2 separate regions of the Homo sapiens genome follow, and region 2 is linked to region 1. The links come from fine-mapping of genetic effects on gene expression. Tissue or cell type: anterior cingulate cortex. Region 1 holds a variant in brackets; the other region holds the start of a gene. All regions are shown on one strand. Distances are between the middles of the regions.

Region 1 (8,104 bases):
ATCCCCCTGAGAAAACTCCTCTGGCCTCCTGGCGGGGGGTGAAGGCCAGGCTGCCAGGGCCAGGCTGCCAGCTTCTGGGAGCTGCAGGGGCAGAGGCAGGGAGCTGTCAGGCATTCAGCCAGCAAGACGCACTCAGTACCCACTTGGGGTTCAGAATCCCCCTCCCTCATCTTCAGATGGGCCAGATGTCCCCAAAGCCAGCGGCCCCTTTCTGTTTCACCCTGTCTACAGAATAAACCCCCAGTCACTGGGGGTGGGGGAAGAGTAAGGGGAGAGGGGAAACGAGATTTGGAGGTCTAGCTGCTGCTGAAACAGCCCTCAGTTCGTCTTTATTTTGCCTTCTGCAAAACTGGCCTGGTGTTGCCAGCTCCTTTTGAGGACTTTGCTACCGGTTCTCAGCATCCCTCAATTGCTGGCTTAGGATTCATGGGTTTTTAGGGGTGGGGTGGGATTAGCATGTCCAGCTGCTTTCCAGTTTCCAAAGTTCTGTCCCTATCATATTGCCTCTGATTTAAAAAAAAAAAAAAGCCATTTTAAAAAAAAGATGTAATTGAGGTTCAAGAGAGAGTGAAACTAGAGAGGTGTTCAATCCATCACTTTTACACAGAAATTTCACCTTTTTTTCACTTATAAAATCTAATGAAAGAGTTCTATATTATTATGTTAATAATACAGTAGTAATATAACAGTATAATGTAATAATTAATATATTATATTAATTATATATTATAATTATATATTATATTATATTATATATATTATATATTATATATTAATTATATATATTATATATATTATATATTATATTATAATATATTATATTATATTATATATATTATATATTATATTATTATTATATTATATTATATATATTATATATAATATTATATATATTATATATTATATAATATAATATTATATATTATATTAATATTATAATATGTAACGCATAACATGTAATATTGATAATATAATAGGTGCGATGGCTCACACCTGTAATCTCAGCACTTTGGGAGGCCGAAGCGAGAGGATCACTTGAGCCCAGGAGTTCAAGACCAGCCTGGCCAACATAACGAGCACCTGTCTCTACAAAAAATTAAAAAAAAAAAAATTAGGCATGGTGGCATGCATCTGTAGTCCCAGCTACTCAAGAGGCTGAGGCACGAGGGTTGCTTGAGCCCAGGAGCTTCAGGCTGCAGTAAGCTATGATCACACCACTGTACTCCAGCCTTGACAACAGAGTGAGACCCTTTAAATAGATAGATAGATAGATAGATAGATAGATAGATAGATAGATAGATAGACAGACAGACAGCAAGCTTTAAATTTTCATCCCAAGCCTAGGTCAAGCAACAATCAGTCTTTCCACTTCCCAGCAGTCTTCCAAAGGAAGGATTATTTGTAAAAAGTGCCTGCACTTCCTGAGTTGGGTTGCTCTCTTGATCTTTGGAGGGGATCAGACAAGAAGGATGCGCCCAAAGCCACAAGGCATGATTTAAGGGCAAGACTGGGGGGCGACTTCACCCAGGGAGGTGTTAATACCTTTTTTTTTTTTTGAGATGGAGTCTCGCTCTGTCTCCCAGGCTGGAGTGCAGTGGCGCAATCTTGGCTCAGCACGACCTCCATCTCCCAGGTTCAGGTGATTCTTGTGCCTCAGCCTCTTGAGTAGCTGGGACTACAGGCGTGCGCCACCAGGCCTGGCTAATTTTGTGTGTGTGTGTTTTAGTAGAGATGGGGTTTCATCATGTTGGCCAGAATGGTCTCGATCTCCTGGCCTGGTGATCTGCCTGCCTCGGCCTCCCAAAGTGCTGGGATTACAGGCGTGAGCCACCGCACCCAACCTTTAACACCTTTTATCACCTGCCCTGCCTGATGATGATGGGCTTTGGGGTCCAGTCACATCTCCATTCCCTCACTTGTGGCAGGCACCAGGGTAACCAGCAAGCAAGCCCTGAAAAGAGAGACCTTGCCCGGAAACGTTGCAGCGTTCTCTTACGTGTATGCTTTGCCTTCTGAGAATGGCGAGCATTGATGCAAGTGTATCCCTTTTAAGAATACTCAATGGGGCCAGGCGTGATGGCTCACACCTGTAAGCCCAGCACTTTGGGAGGCTGAGGCGGGTGGATCACGAGGTCAGGAGATCGAGACCAGCCTGGCTAACATGGTGAAACCCCGTCTCTACTAAAAATACAAAAAATTAGCCAGGTGTGGTGGCAGGCGCCTGTAGTCCCAGCTACTTGGGAGGCTGAGGCAGGAGAATGGCGTGAACCCGGAAGGCGGAGCTTGCAGTGAGCTGAGCTCACACCACTGTACTCCAGCCTGGGTGACAGAGCGAGACTCCATCTCAAAAAAAAAGAATACTCCATGGGAAGCTGGTATGATCTCAGTGGAGGGCAATTTAGCAATATCTATCAAAATGACAAGAACACTCACCCTTAGGCTCACAATCCCACTACTGGTGATTTATCCTGCAGATGTAGTTGCACAGCTGTGGAAGGACTTACTTACAAGGTTAATCATTGTTGTTTGTGAAAGCAGCAGATTAGAAACAACCCAGACTCCACCAACGGGTAATGGTTACATAACTTGTGGTATATCCATCCATGGATTACTACACAGCACTAAAAAAGAATGAGAACTTTGGGAAGCCGAGGCGGGCAGATCACAAGGTCAGGAGATCAAGACCATCCTGGCTCACATGGTGAAACCCTGTCACTACTAAAAATACAAAAAATTAGCCAGGCATGGTGGCAGGCACCTGTAGTCCCAGCTACTCGGGAGGCTGAGGCAGGAGAATGGTGTGAACTCAGGAGGCGTAGCTTGCAGCGAGCCAAGATCGTGCTACTGCACTCCAGCCTGGGCGACAGAGTGAGACTCCATCCTAAACAAACAAAAAAAAAAGAATAAGAACAAGTCTAGGAACTATTTTGAAAGATCTCTCAAACACATTTTTAAGTTAAAAAAGCAAAATGCAAAACTGTACATAATATGCTGTATTATCTATAAAATAGAGCAAATAAGAATTATAGGTATGCTTACTTGTACTCATATAAAGAAACTCTAGAAGAATACCAAGAACTGTGGATGAGGGTAGAATAGTGAATGGAAACTGACTGATTAGACTAAAGAGGTGGGAGTAAGACCTTTTATGTATCGCTTTACATTATTTGACTTTAGGACCATGTGGATGTTTGCATATTCAAATAATTAATTCTTAAAAAGAAGATGAAAATAGAAGGTGGGCGCAGTGGCTCACACCTGTAATCCCAGCACTTCGAGAGGCTGAGGTGGGTGGATCACTTGAGGTCAAGAGTTTGAGACCAGCTTGGCCAACATGGTGAAACCCCGTCTCTACTAAAAATACATAAATTAGCCAGGCATGCTCGTGGGTGCCTGTAGTCCCAGCTACTCGGGAGACTGAGGCAGAAGAATCACTTAAACCTGGGGTGGCGGAGGTCGCAGTGAGCCGAGATCATGCCACTGTACTCCAGCCTGGGTGACAGATTGAGACTCCATCTCAAAAAAAAAAAAAAGAAAGAAAATTAAGCAATAGTCCCAACATACTAAACGCATTTGTTTCTCTCCTCAAAGGAAAAATTAGAGGGCGAGTTATAGAGGGTCTTGAGGTTGTGTGAGTCAGGATGGCCTAGGTTTTGCTGTAATAATGAACAGCCCTCAAATCTCAGTGGCTGAACTCATTGAATTTTATTTCTTGCTCACTTACACAGCCACCACGGGATGTTGGGGGAGTACTGTTTATCTGAGTCATTCTGGGACCCAGGAGGATGGGCATTCAGCCCAACGTAATTACCATATCTGGCAGCGGTGGCTGCGAAGGCTTCTCCTTGGATGCGATGCCGCAGCTCCCTCCCACTCACACTTGATTGGCCAAAGCAAGTCACATGACACTGCTTACCTGCAAGGGGGCAGGGAGGTGCAACGCTACTAAGTGCCCGGGAGAGGGAGAACTGCAATTTCTTGGCAAG[C/G]GGCAAAAGATAACCACAGGGTACTGTTTCATCAAGGGCCGCCCAAAGCCCTGTCTGAATATGGGGCTCGTGTTTCCCCTGCTATGTAGTTACACAGGCCTCCTGCAGCTTAGTTTCAGCTTTTCTAGTTTTTCATGGCTCCCAGAGGGAATATTTTCTATGCCGTATAGCCTGTTTTCACATGAAGCCATTTTGGGGTGTTATAGTAACAGCTGGTGACTTGATTTTATTTATGTTGCTATGTGCTGAAAGCTTTATGAATGTTCTGGCTGTGCCAGTTACTAGCTGTGGGACATGGAACAAGTTATGAACAACCTATTTACCTTCTCCAACCCTTAGTTCATTTATCTGTAAAATGGGGATAATACTATCTTATAGGGCTGTTGGGGTTGTTGTGTGAGAAAGTGCAGTGTGTATGTGTATGTGTGTGTGTGTGTGTGTGTGTGTGTGTGTGTGCAGAATGGGTAGAACCGTGCCCAGAAGTAGGAAGCCCTGCATATGTTCAATATTTAGCTATTATTTTGTTGTTGTTGTTTGTTTGTTTGTTTTTTTGAGATGGAGTCTCTCTCTGTCGCCCAGGCTGGAGTACAGTGGCACAATCTCGGCTCACTGCAGCCTCCGCCTCCCGGGTTCAAGCAATTCTCCTGTCTCAGCCTCCCAAGTAGCTGAGATTACAGGCGCGCACCACCACGCCCAGCTAATTTTTGTATTTTTAATAGAGGTGGGGTTTCACCATGTTGGTCAGGCTGGTCTTGAACTCCTGACCTCAGGTGATCCACCTGCCTCGGCTTCCCAAAGTGCTGGGATTACAGGCGTAAGCCACTGTGCCCAGCCTTAGCTATTATTTTTATTCCTTCAATTTTTTCTTTGGGGCAGTCTGGAGAACAGTTTCATGTGAACATTCTGATCACATGGAAAAGGGAAGGTTTACTCACGTGTCGGAAGAGGTGTGAATGGAAAGTAGTAAAGGCATGGTTTCTGATGTTCATGTTTGTGGAATCTGTCGTCTATGGCAGATGCTTCCCCGTGCTACCAATTTGTGTGTCTGAAAGGACACCCGTACATTCATCTGCATCCTCAAAATCTGTTCCTCCGTGGGTTTCTCCATCTCTGCAAAATGCACTGCTGTCCACTGTGTGCCTAAGCCAGCCCTGTTTGGTCAATTTTTTGAAGGCTGTAGGGTAGAGTGGTCAGGAACAAGAAGCCCTGGACCCAAGCTGTCAGGGTTCAAATCCCAGCTCACCTGGTATTGCAAATCGCATGGGTGACTCCAGGCAAGCAACTGAAGCCGTGTGTGCCTCGGTGTCCTCATCTGAAAAAGGGGAATGAGAATCATAGTATCTATCTTACAGGGATATTGTAAGGATGAAAGATTAGCTGTTGGAACTGTGCCTGGTGCAGAGAAACTACTTCATGTGTGCTTTGCACACCCGAAACCTTCTTTTTTATATTTATTTATCCTTGGCCTGGGGGCTGTCTCCTCTCACTCAGTGGTGTGTCTCATTTGTTCTCCTCTGTGCCTGAGCCAGCACATGGCACATCATATTTTCTCAGTAAATATCTGGCAGAAAAATGTATTCATCAGCCTGGCCAACATGGTGAAACCCCATCTCTACTAATAATACAAAAATTAGCCAGGCGTGGTGGCGGGCACCTGTAATCCCAACTACTTGGGAGGCTGAGGAGGAAGAATCGCTTGAACCCGGGAGGCAGAGGTTGCAGTGAGCCAAGATCACGCCACTGCACTCCAGCCAGGGCGACAGAGTGAGACTCTGTCTCAAAAAAAAAAAAAAAAAAAAAAAAAAAAAAAATATATATATATATATATACACACACACACACACACACATTTACATAGCCCCGCCTTCATCAAATGTCACCCTGCCCCTTAAAATGCCGCCCATGCATGTTCTCCCACCTACTGCTTTTGTTTCCAATCATTCCTAATGGCCCGGATCTATTGGATCCCAGCATCACTGCTTGTTAGCGCAGTGGCCTTGGGCAAGTCACTCCTCTGGTGCAGATGGGGGTCCCTAAGACCACCCTCAGTTTCCATGATTCACTAGAAGGAATCACAGAACTGAGAAAAATTGTTATAGTCAAGGCTACAGTTTATTACAGCAAAAGGATACAGAGTAAAATCAGCAAAGGCAAGAGCCACACAAGGCGACCCCATCAGTCTCTCTGATTCCTTAATTATCTAACAGCAGCACATAGGGCAGAGGCCAAGAGAGACCAGCATGAGCTGCCAGATGTCGTCTCTCAGTGAAGTCCCATGGACAGTGCTCAGTTCTCCCAGCAATGACATGTGACAACAATGATGTATTGCTAGCCAGGGACACTTACTTGGGCCTTGGTGTCCAGGGTTGTTATTGGGGTCAGCCATGTAGACTTGTGCTGAATACTGCTGAGAGATCGAGACAGACGGTAAGAACGGCTGAGAGCTGATGCACGCCAGGTGTCCTTCCATGCGTTGGCCAGGAGTGATCTCATTTTAGCCCATCCATGACCCTGTTAAATAGACATCTCCATTTTTCCAGACAAGGAACCAAGGCTCATTGAGGAGAGGTCACTTGCCTGAAGTCCCACGGCTAATAGGCAAATCCAGGAGTCTGATCCTTAAACCTCCACCCTTACAGATGTGGCCTTGGACATGGCTGCACACCCTCGCGTGAGTTCACTCACTCAGGATGTATTGAGCCATTGTTCCAGGGCAGGTAGCATTCAAAGCATCAGGGGTGCTGTTATAGCCAAGGCTACAGTTTATTACAGCAGAAGGACACGGAATAAAATCAGCAAAGGGAAGAGCCACATAGGGCAGAGGCCAGGAGAGACCATCCCGAAGGGGAACATCCCTGTGCTTGTGGGGCTTCCATCTTAAGGAGGGCAAGCAGGCAATGGGCAGATCAGGAAACGAAGATATGACTTGCCAAAGGGTGGTAAGTGCCATGGCCAAAAGGAGGCAGAGAGAGATGGGGTGTCTGCTTAGTTGGGAAGTCACAGAAGAGCGGGACGTGATGTTTGAACAGAGACGATAATTATAATGGCCACTTTCAGAACACTTACTATTTGTTGGATAAGTAATAACAGTAATATATGTACCAGGCAATGTTCTAAATGCTTGAATGCATCTCATCTTTCCAATCACAGAGATGCTCTTATTATCATCACTTTACAAATGAAAGGGAGGTTAGGGAAGTTGGCAGAAGGCACACAGCCAGGAAGCAGGGGCTCCAGGATCTCAGCCCAGGGATCTTGGCCTCAGAGGCTATGCTTTTCACCACTGTCCTGCCTCTCAGTGCATGGAGAAATGAATGTTCAGTGCCTAGAAGGGATAATCAGGGAATATGGAGGTTAAGGAGGCAACTGAGGCACAGAGAGGTTAAATCGCAGGGTTCAGAAGTGTTGGGGGTGGGACTCAAAGCTAAATGATCTGCCTCCACAATCTAAGCTCATTACCACCAGACCAGTCATCCTTAAGCATGCATAGGAGTCCCCTGGAGGGCTTGTCAAACTAGATTGCTGGGGCCCGCCCCCAGAGTTTCAGACTCAGTGGGTCTGAGGTGGCCCCGAGAAGGTGCATTTCTGTCCAGGTCCCAAGAACCGATGGTGATGCTGCTGGTCCAGGGCCCACATTTTGAGACCCACTGCCCTAGACTGCCTCTCAGCACACGGAGGAATGAATAGCCAGCTTCCGGCGGAGGAAACTGAGGCTCAGAGAAGCTAAAAGTGTCATGTGGAAAAAATCACATAGCCGTTAGACTGTGGTACCTGGATCTCAAACCCAGGCAATCCGGCTCCAGAGTGTTTTTAACCATTTCCCTGCACTGCCTCCTGCCGGTCAAAAGAATAAATGCATATGCAGGCAAGAATGAATGGGTGGTCCCATTTCCGTAGAAGGGGAAACCGAGGTCGGGGAGCTGGGCGGGGAGACCCCAGCATCCTCTGACCTCTTTCCTTGCCTCCCTGCCCCCGCCCGCAGGTGAAGCTGGTGTTCGTGGAGGACCAGGCTGTGGTGGAGACGGTGTTCTTCCTGACGTCGCGCACCAGGGCGCTGCTGCGGCGCTTCCCTCGCATGCTGCTGGTGGACCGGCTGCCGGGGCTGCAGGGCGCGCTGG
Region 2 (8,104 bases), 460 kb after region 1:
AGGATTTTGAGCAGGAGTGATATGATCTTATTTGTGTTTTAAACATCTCTCTAGCTGTGGGGTGAATAGATTGCAGGAAGTTGAGAGGCAGGCCAGTGAGGAGGGTACGCCACCAGTCCAGGTGGGAGATGATGGTGCCTACATGAGACTGGGGGCAGTAGAGGGCGTGATAGGTGAAAGGATTTGAATAATATTTAGCAGCAAGGCTAGAAAGAACATGGATTGGAAATGGACATGAGGGAGAGAGGATAGGATGGGGAATGGCTTTGAGGCTTTTGGCTGGGGCAGCTAAATGAAAGGCAGTGCCGGCTCTTATAAGAAATGGTATTGGCCAGGCGCGGTGGATCACAGCTGTAATTCCAGTACCTTGGGAAGCCAAGGCAAGGAGGATCACTTGAACCCAGGAGTTCGACATCAGCCTGGACAACATAGTGAGACCCCACCTCTACAAAAAACTTAAAAAGTTAGCCAAGCATACTGGCATGTGCCTGCAGTCCTGGCTTCTTCCTTCCTTTCCTTCCTTCCCTTCCTTCCTTCCTTCTCTCTTTCTCTCTTTCTTTCTCGCTCTCTCTCTTTCTTTTCTCTCCCTCTCTCTCTGTATTTATTTCTTTCTGAGATGGAGTCTTGTTCTGTCACCCAGGCTGGAGTCCAGTGGCGTGATGTCAGCTCACTGCAACCTCCGCCTCCCGGGTTCAAGCAATTCTCCTGCCTCAGCCTCTCAAGTAGCTGGGATTACAGGCACATGCCACCACACCCGGCTAATTTTTGTATTTTTAGTAGAGATGGGGTTTCACCATGTTGGCCAGGCTGATCTCGAACTCCTAACCTCGTGATCCACCCACCTCGGCCTCCCGAAGTGCTGGGGTTACAGGCATGAACCACCACACCCAGGCATGTCCTAGCTATTTTTGAGGCTGAGGTAGGAAGATCACTTGGGCCCAGGAATTTGAGGTTACAGTGAGCTATGACTGGGCCACTGCACTCCAGCCTGGGTCACAGAGTGAGATCCCAATTCCAAAAAAAAAAAAAAAAAGTATGGTTCCCAGCATGGTACTATAAAGCAGGTCCCAGCATTCATGCTACGCTGCTTGGTTTGAATGCCAGTGCTGGCTCTCTGTGTGATCCTAGGCAAGTAACTTAACCTCTGTGTGTCAGTTTCTGCATGTATATAATAAGGTTAATAATTGTACCCATTTTGGCTGGACGCAGTGGCTCATGCCTGTAATCCTAGCACTTTGGGAGGCCGAGGCAGGTGGATCACCTGAGGTCAGGAGTTCAAGACCAGCCTGACCAAAATGGAGAAAACCCATCTCTGCTAAAAATACAAAAAATTAGCTGGGCGTGATGGTGCGCATGCCTGTAATCCCAACTACTCGGGAGGCTGGGGCAGGAGAATCGCTTGAACCTGGGAGGTGGAGGTTGCAGTGAGCTGAGATCACATCATTGCACTCCAGCCTGGGCAACAAGAGCAAAACTCCATCTCAAAATAATAATAATAATAATAACAATAATAATAATTGTACCCATTTTGTGGGGTGGTTATGAGATGAGAGGCTTATCAAGGTTTTAAATCTGCCTGGCACAGGAAATGTTCTGCTTTTCATTGCTTCTGCAGAGATGGGGAGACTAGGGGACCATGCTTGGGATGGGAAGAATGGGTGATCCATTTTACAGTGTAAGCAGCCTCCTCTCCACCCACTGGGTGTCCCCTCCTCCCCCAAGGCTGCTCTCCTACCTCAGCACCCCATTCCCCAGCCTCTATTCATGCCCATCCCCAGTGGGTTCAATAGCTCCTCCCTCCAAGCCCCTTACCTTCTCTCCTCCAGTGCTGAGCCTTAATGGGGGCAGAAAGGGGTCATAAAGAACCCTCTTCAGCTCCACATCCACGGGGCTCTGCCGCTTCCCCACAGCACACAGACTCCACGCTGCATTCACCAGGCCCCAGAAAGGAGGCCCTGGGGGTGGGGTCGGAGTAGGAGGACAAGGAGTCAGAAATAGAGACTGGATCCCAGGGCTGGTATCTGCTGAGTGGGCTGTGGTCTGGACTCCCAGATCCCAGGGGAGGAGGGGCTAGGGACCTAGACTCCTGGGTCTGAGGGAGGACTGGGCTCAGATCCAGAATTCTGGGTCCTAGAAGAATCTTGGAATAGTTTCCAAGTTTAGCAGAGACGGGTTTCACCAAGTTGGCCAGGCTGGTCTTGAACTCCTGACCACAGGTAATCCACCCACCTCGGCCTCCTAAAGTGCTGGGATTTCAAGCGTGAGCCACCGCGCCCAGCCGATCAAACCCATCTTAAGCCACTGTAGATGGAACTACAACTCCCAGCAGGCCCCAGTGCTACCAGCCTACCCCTCTGCTGCCTACCTGCCCCAGAGCCCCGTGGGAGTTGTAGTTCTTTTTTTTAATCGCTCTTATCCCACAGCTGGATTATTATTAATGTGTTGGGGAGAGGAGCTGCAAGAGAAGGCTGGACAAGGTGGGGGACGGGGCCACCCAGCCTCTGGTTCCTAGCAGGAGCCAGGACCTTCCTCTCCCGGCAAACACACACATAATCTCCACCCCCACACTTTCCTTCCACTCACTCCCACTCACTACTTGAAATGCGCATGTATAATGTCCCATGGTGAGCCCCTGGGGTTCAGAAGCTGGCCCGACTCCTGAGGGACAGAGGAGGGGGCTGGGACTCCTGGTCCTGGGGGGGAGGAGGGAGCTGGGAACCCAGGTTCCTGAGTCTGAAGAAGGAGGCGCCGGGAGGGCCGGACTCCTGGGTCCCCGCCTTGGCGGCACCTGGCACGAAGTTTCCCTGGAGATTATCCTTGTAGCTCCACCAGTCCTCGGGGTCAGGTGCTGGTCCGATGTGAGCTGGGAAGAGAGCAGCCTGAATCCCTCTCCTTGGCATCCCCACCTCCACCCTCCCTCGGGGGCTCCTCCCGGGAACCCCAGGTCTTACCTGCTGCCCCCAGTGCAGCCCAGAGTACCAGCGCTCGAGGGGCGCTCAGACGAGCTGCAGCCCCCATCCCCAGGAGGCCTCCGAGGGACCCCTGCCCAACGCCCTGCCCCCCTCTCTCAGCTCCTCTGTCCCCTCCTTCTGGGACCCTGTCCCTCCAGGACTTCCAGCTTTCCTCTCCTCCCCACAGGGAGTCCCAGTTCCCCAAATGCCAAAGCAGCCAGGGACTGAGATCCGCCCTTCAAACCCACTCTTCTTCTCTCTCCCGTCTCTCTGTGTCTTTCCTCTTTCCTCTGCTCTTTTCCCGGAACCCTCCAGTCTCCCTCTAGCTCCTGATCTTCCTACTCCTCTCAGCCTTCTGCTGCCCCCAGGGCTACCTCTTGGTTCCTAACCCACACCTCCTCTCCGTTCTCTTTTCATTAAGCTCTCCCAAGCCACCTAACTCCAGGTCTCCATCCCGCATCTCCTCCTCCTCCTCCCTCTCTCCTTTCCAGCTCCTGCCTCTTCTCCCCTCTCTCCTTCTTCACCTCCTCCCGCCCTCCCTCAGTGTCGGCCTCCAGCTTCGTGCTCTCCCCACCTCCTCCTCTCCTGCCTCTTCTCCCTGTTTCAGTCTCTCTTCTCTCTTGTCCCTTCCTCCCTCCTCCCCCTCCCTCTCTCCTCTCCCGTGGTGTTATTTAATTTTGTTGTTGGGCTGGGGGAGCAGGTGATCTCATAGCGGCAAACACTCCTCGGGTTGGCTTGGGGTGGGATGTGCGAAAGGGCAGGATTCGGAAGGAGGTAGGGGGCTGGTCCTCGGCTCCCAGCCGCGCTGGGGCCACGCGGGCGGGGGTGGCCGGGACACCTGGGGCCGGGAGCAGGCTGTTTCCATCCTCCGCAGCAAGGGGAAGGGGGGGCGCTTAAGGTGGAGCTGGGAGTGGCTTCGGAAGTCTCCATGCTGGGGGCCGCCGGCCTTGGCGGATGCAGGGTCCCCCTGCTCGCTGGGACCCAGGTTGGAGCCGCCCCAGCGCCCGCAGCCCCCCTTCCCCGCCCCAGGGCTCCACTGGGTCTCTGCCTGGGGCTGCCTTAACGGGGCCGGGGGATCCCCTAGGAGCCTGAAGTGCAGTGAGGGCTGCTCGCCTGGAGGGGGAGGCAGAGACCTGGCGAGGGAGAGAGGGGCGGGGAGGAGGAGCCGGGAGGGCAGAGGCGGAGAGCGGGAGGTGAGGACCCACATCTGCGTAGGCTGGGGAGGGGAAGGGAGCCTGAGATGGATACGGAGAGGAAGGGCGGAGGGACAGAAGGTTAGAGAGGCAAGAACAAACCGCCAGGCAGGAGTGAGGAGGAGGGGGAGGAGGTGAAGGAGGAGGGGGAGGAGGGAGAGGAGGGGGAGGGAGAGGAGGGGGAGGAGGGAGAGGAGGAGGGGGAGGGAGAGAGGAAGGAATGAATGAGAGAGATACAGATAGAGGCAGAAAAGGAGATACAGAGACGCAGCGAGACAGACATGGAGACATAGAGACACACACTTAGAGATAGACAGAAACTCAGAGACCAAGCAGCAGATGGGGTGGGGAGAGACAAAAAGAGAGAAAGAGCGATCCAAAGACAGAGAGAGACACCACATTTTTGTATTTGGGGAGAAGAGATGGGGTCATGCTATGTTGCTCAGGCTAGTCTCAAACTCCTGTCCTCAAGGGATCCTCCCACCTTGGCCTCCCAAAGCATTGAGATTACAGGCATGAACAACCATACCCAGCCTCAGAGAGACCACATATTACTGTTGTTGTTGTTATTTATTATTTTTCACCCCGTCTAATGGTAGTGAAACTGCTCATTGTCTTCTTTTATTTTCTTTTTTGAGACAAGCCTTGCAATGTCACCCAGGCTGGAGAGCAGTGGTGCGATCATGGCTTGATCCAGCCTCGACCTCCTGGGCTTAAACACTCCTTCCACCTCAGCCTCCCAAATAGTTGGGACTACAGGCACATGCCACCATGCCAGGCTAATTTTTAAAAATTATTTTTTGTAGAGATGTAGTCTTGCTATGATGCCCAGGCTGGTCCGGAACCCCTGGGCTCAAGGGATCCTCCTGCCTTGGCCTCCCAAAGTGCTGGGATTACAGGTGTGAGCCACCTTGTCCAGCCTGACACCAAACATTAACGAGACAGAGAGACATAGAAAGAGACACACATACATCAGTACAGGTGGAGAGAGACACAGAGAGGGAGAGACATAGAAACACACACACAGACTGAGCATGGTGGCTCACACCTGTAATCCCAGAACTCTGGGAGGTCAAGGTGGATGGATCACTTGAGGCCAGGAGACTGAGACCAGCCCGGCCAACATGGCCAAATGCCATCTCTACTAAATACATAAAAACTTAGCCAGGCATGGTGGCTCACGCCTGTAATCCCAGCACTTAGGGTGGTCGAGGTGGGTGGATCACCTGAGGTCAGGAGTTCAAGACCAGCCTGACCAAAATGGTGCAACCCCGTTTCTACTAAAAAATACAAAAACTAGCTGAGCGTGGTGGCACACACCTATAATCCCGGCTACTCAGGAGGCTGAGACAGGAGAATCGCTTGAACCGGGTAGGTGGAGGCTACAGTGAGCCGAGATCCCAACAGTGCACTCCAGCCTGGGCAACAGAGTGAGACTCCATCTCAAAAAAAAAAAAAAAAAGAAAGAAAGAAAGAAACACACACACAGAGCTAGAGACAGAGACCTGGGAACAGGCACACACACATCTATAAATAGAGACACTCGTGCAGAGAAAGAGACATCAACAGAGAGGAACAGATGGACAGAGATAGAGAGACCCAGATAGAGGGAGAGAGGACCAGAAGCAGACCAACTGACATGATGGGAGAGACTACAAAGGAATCAGAAAGACAGAGGTATTCAGAGATAGCAAATTGGGATGGACATTCAAAGACCTAGAGATGGAGAGAGACACCCAGAAAGAAACCCAGAGAGTCAGGGGTGGAGAGAGACACGAAGAAAAAACACAAGAAGGAAAGGTACATACTAATAATTTATTGCTGGCGGGGCTTGGTGGTTCATGCCTGTAATCCCAGCACTTTGGGAGGCTGAGGAGGGAGGATCACTTGAGATCAAGAGTTTGAGACCAGCCTGGGCAACATAGTAAGACCTCGTCTCTATTTTTTATGAAAAAGAAAAAAACAGGCCGGGCACAGTGGCTCACACCTGTAATCCTAGCACTTTGGGAAGCTGAAGCGGGCGGATCACGAGGTCAGGAGATTGAGACCACGGTGAAACCCCATCTCTACTAAAAATACAAAAAATTAGCCGGGCGCGGTGGCGGGCGCCTGTAGTCCCAGCTCCTCGGGAGGCTGAGGCAGGAGAATGGCGTGAACCCGGGAGGTGGAGCTTGCAGTGAGCTGAGATCACGCCACTGCACTCCAGCCTGGGCGACAGAGCGAGACTCCGTCTCAAAAAAAAAAAAAAAAAAGAAAAAAGAAAAAGAAAAAAATAGTTGGGGAACGGCAGCTCACGCCTGTAATTCCAGCACTTTGGGAGGCCGAGGAAGGCAGATCACTTGAGGTCAGGAGTTTGAGACCAGCCTGACCAACGTGGTGAAACCCCGTCTTTACCAAAAATACAAAAATTAGGCTGGGCGCAGTGGCTCACGCCTGTAATCCCAGCACTTTGGGAGGCCAAGGCGGGCGGATCACAAGGTCAGGATTTCGAGACTGGCCTCACCAGCATGGTGAAACCGTGTCTCTGCTAAAAATACAAAAATTAGCTGGGCATGGTGGCACACGCCGAGATTGCGCCACTGCACTCCAGCCTGGGCGACAGAGTGAGACTCTGTCTCAAAAAAAAAAAAAAAACAAAAACAAAAATTAGCCGGGTGTGGTGACGCATGCCTCTAGTCCCAGCTGCTCGGGAGGATGAGGCATGAGAATCACTTGAACTCAGGAAGTGGAGGTTGCAGTGAGCCGAGATCACACCAGTGCCCTCCAGCCTGGGCAAAGAGTGAGACTGTCTCAAAAACAACGACAAAACAAAACAAAACAACGACAAAAAAATCTGTTGTTGTGTGACAAATTACCCTAAAACTCAGTGGCTTAAAACAACAAACATTTATTGTGTTCACAGTTCCTGAGGGCCAGGAATGTGGGAATGGCTTCATTGGGTGGTTCTGGATCCTTCTTGAGGGTGCAGTGAAACTGTTGGACAGGGCTGCAGTCATCTCAAGTCTTTTATGACCTAGTCTCCCAAAGTCACACACCTTTTATTCCACGCATCAGAAATGAGTCACTAGATCTAGCCTACACTCAAAAGGAAAGACGTTAGGATCCTCTGCTCTTGGGCCGGGAGCGGTGGCTCACGCCTGTAATCCCAGCACTTTGGGAGGCCGAGGAAGGCAGATCACTTGAGATCAGGAGTTCAAGAGCAGCCTGGCCAACATGGTGAAACCTCGTCTCTATTAAAAATACAAAAATTGGCCGGGCGTGTTGGCTCACGCTTGTAATCCCAGCACTTTGGGAGGCTGAGGCGGGCGGATCATGAGGTCAGCAGATCGAGACCACGGTGAAACCCCGTCTCTACTAAAAATACAAAAAATTAGCCGGGCGTGGTGGTGGGCGCCTGTAGTCCTAGCTACTCTGGAGGCTGAGGCAAGAGAATGGCGTGAACCCAGGAGGCGGAGCTTGCAGTGAGCTGAGATCGCGCCACTGCACTCCAGCCTGGGTGACAGAGCAAGACTGTCTCAAAAAAAAAAAAAATACAAAAATTAGCCGAGCATGGTGGCGTGTGCCTGTAATCCCAGCTACTCAGGAGGTTGAGGCAGGAGAATCGCTTGAAGCTGGGAGGCAGAGGTTGCAGTGAGCCAATATCGAGCCATTGCATTCCAGCCTGGGCGACAGAATGAGACCCTGTCTAAAAAAAAAAAAAAAAATCCTTTGCTCTTGAAAGGAAACGTATCACAGAATTTGGGGATTAATTTTCAAACCACCACAGGTGGGGAGAGGAAGAGAGACACAGAGTTGTGGAGAGATGGACCCTTAAAGACTTGGGAGGGGCCGGGTGCAGTGGCTTATATCTGTAATTCCAGTGCTTTGGGAAGCTGAGGCAGGAGGATCACTTGAGCCCAGGAGTTTGAGACCAGCCTGGACAACACAATGAGAACCCATCTCAGCAAAAAAAAAAAAAAA

Evidence for each region. PIP is the estimated chance that this variant, and not a neighbour inherited with it, causes the effect.
Region 2: CA11 starts here. The variant in region 1 is fine-mapped to the expression of CA11 in anterior cingulate cortex (GTEx, PIP 0.96).

Annotation. Positions count from the first base shown.
Region 1 is chr19:48,186,685-48,194,788 of GRCh38, forward strand. ZSWIM9 (zinc finger SWIM-type containing 9) reads left to right here. Exons shown (of 4, transcript NM_199341.4): 4 at 7,969-8,104. Among named protein-coding and RNA genes, the nearest start is that of ZSWIM9, 20 kb to the left of the region's middle. RefSeq lists an enhancer at 59-118 and a silencer at 1,712-1,944. The variant C/G (reference allele first, on the strand shown) is at 3,987.
Region 2 is chr19:48,642,615-48,650,718 of GRCh38, forward strand. It overlaps CA11 (carbonic anhydrase 11), which reads right to left and starts at 3,573. Exons shown (of 9, transcript NM_001217.5): 1 at 2,952-3,573; 2 at 2,789-2,863; 3 at 1,813-1,955. The coding sequence starts at 3,018. It also overlaps the pseudogene SEC1P. RefSeq lists enhancers at 1,501-2,202, 2,203-2,903, 2,904-3,604 and silencers at 3,562-3,751, 3,782-4,191.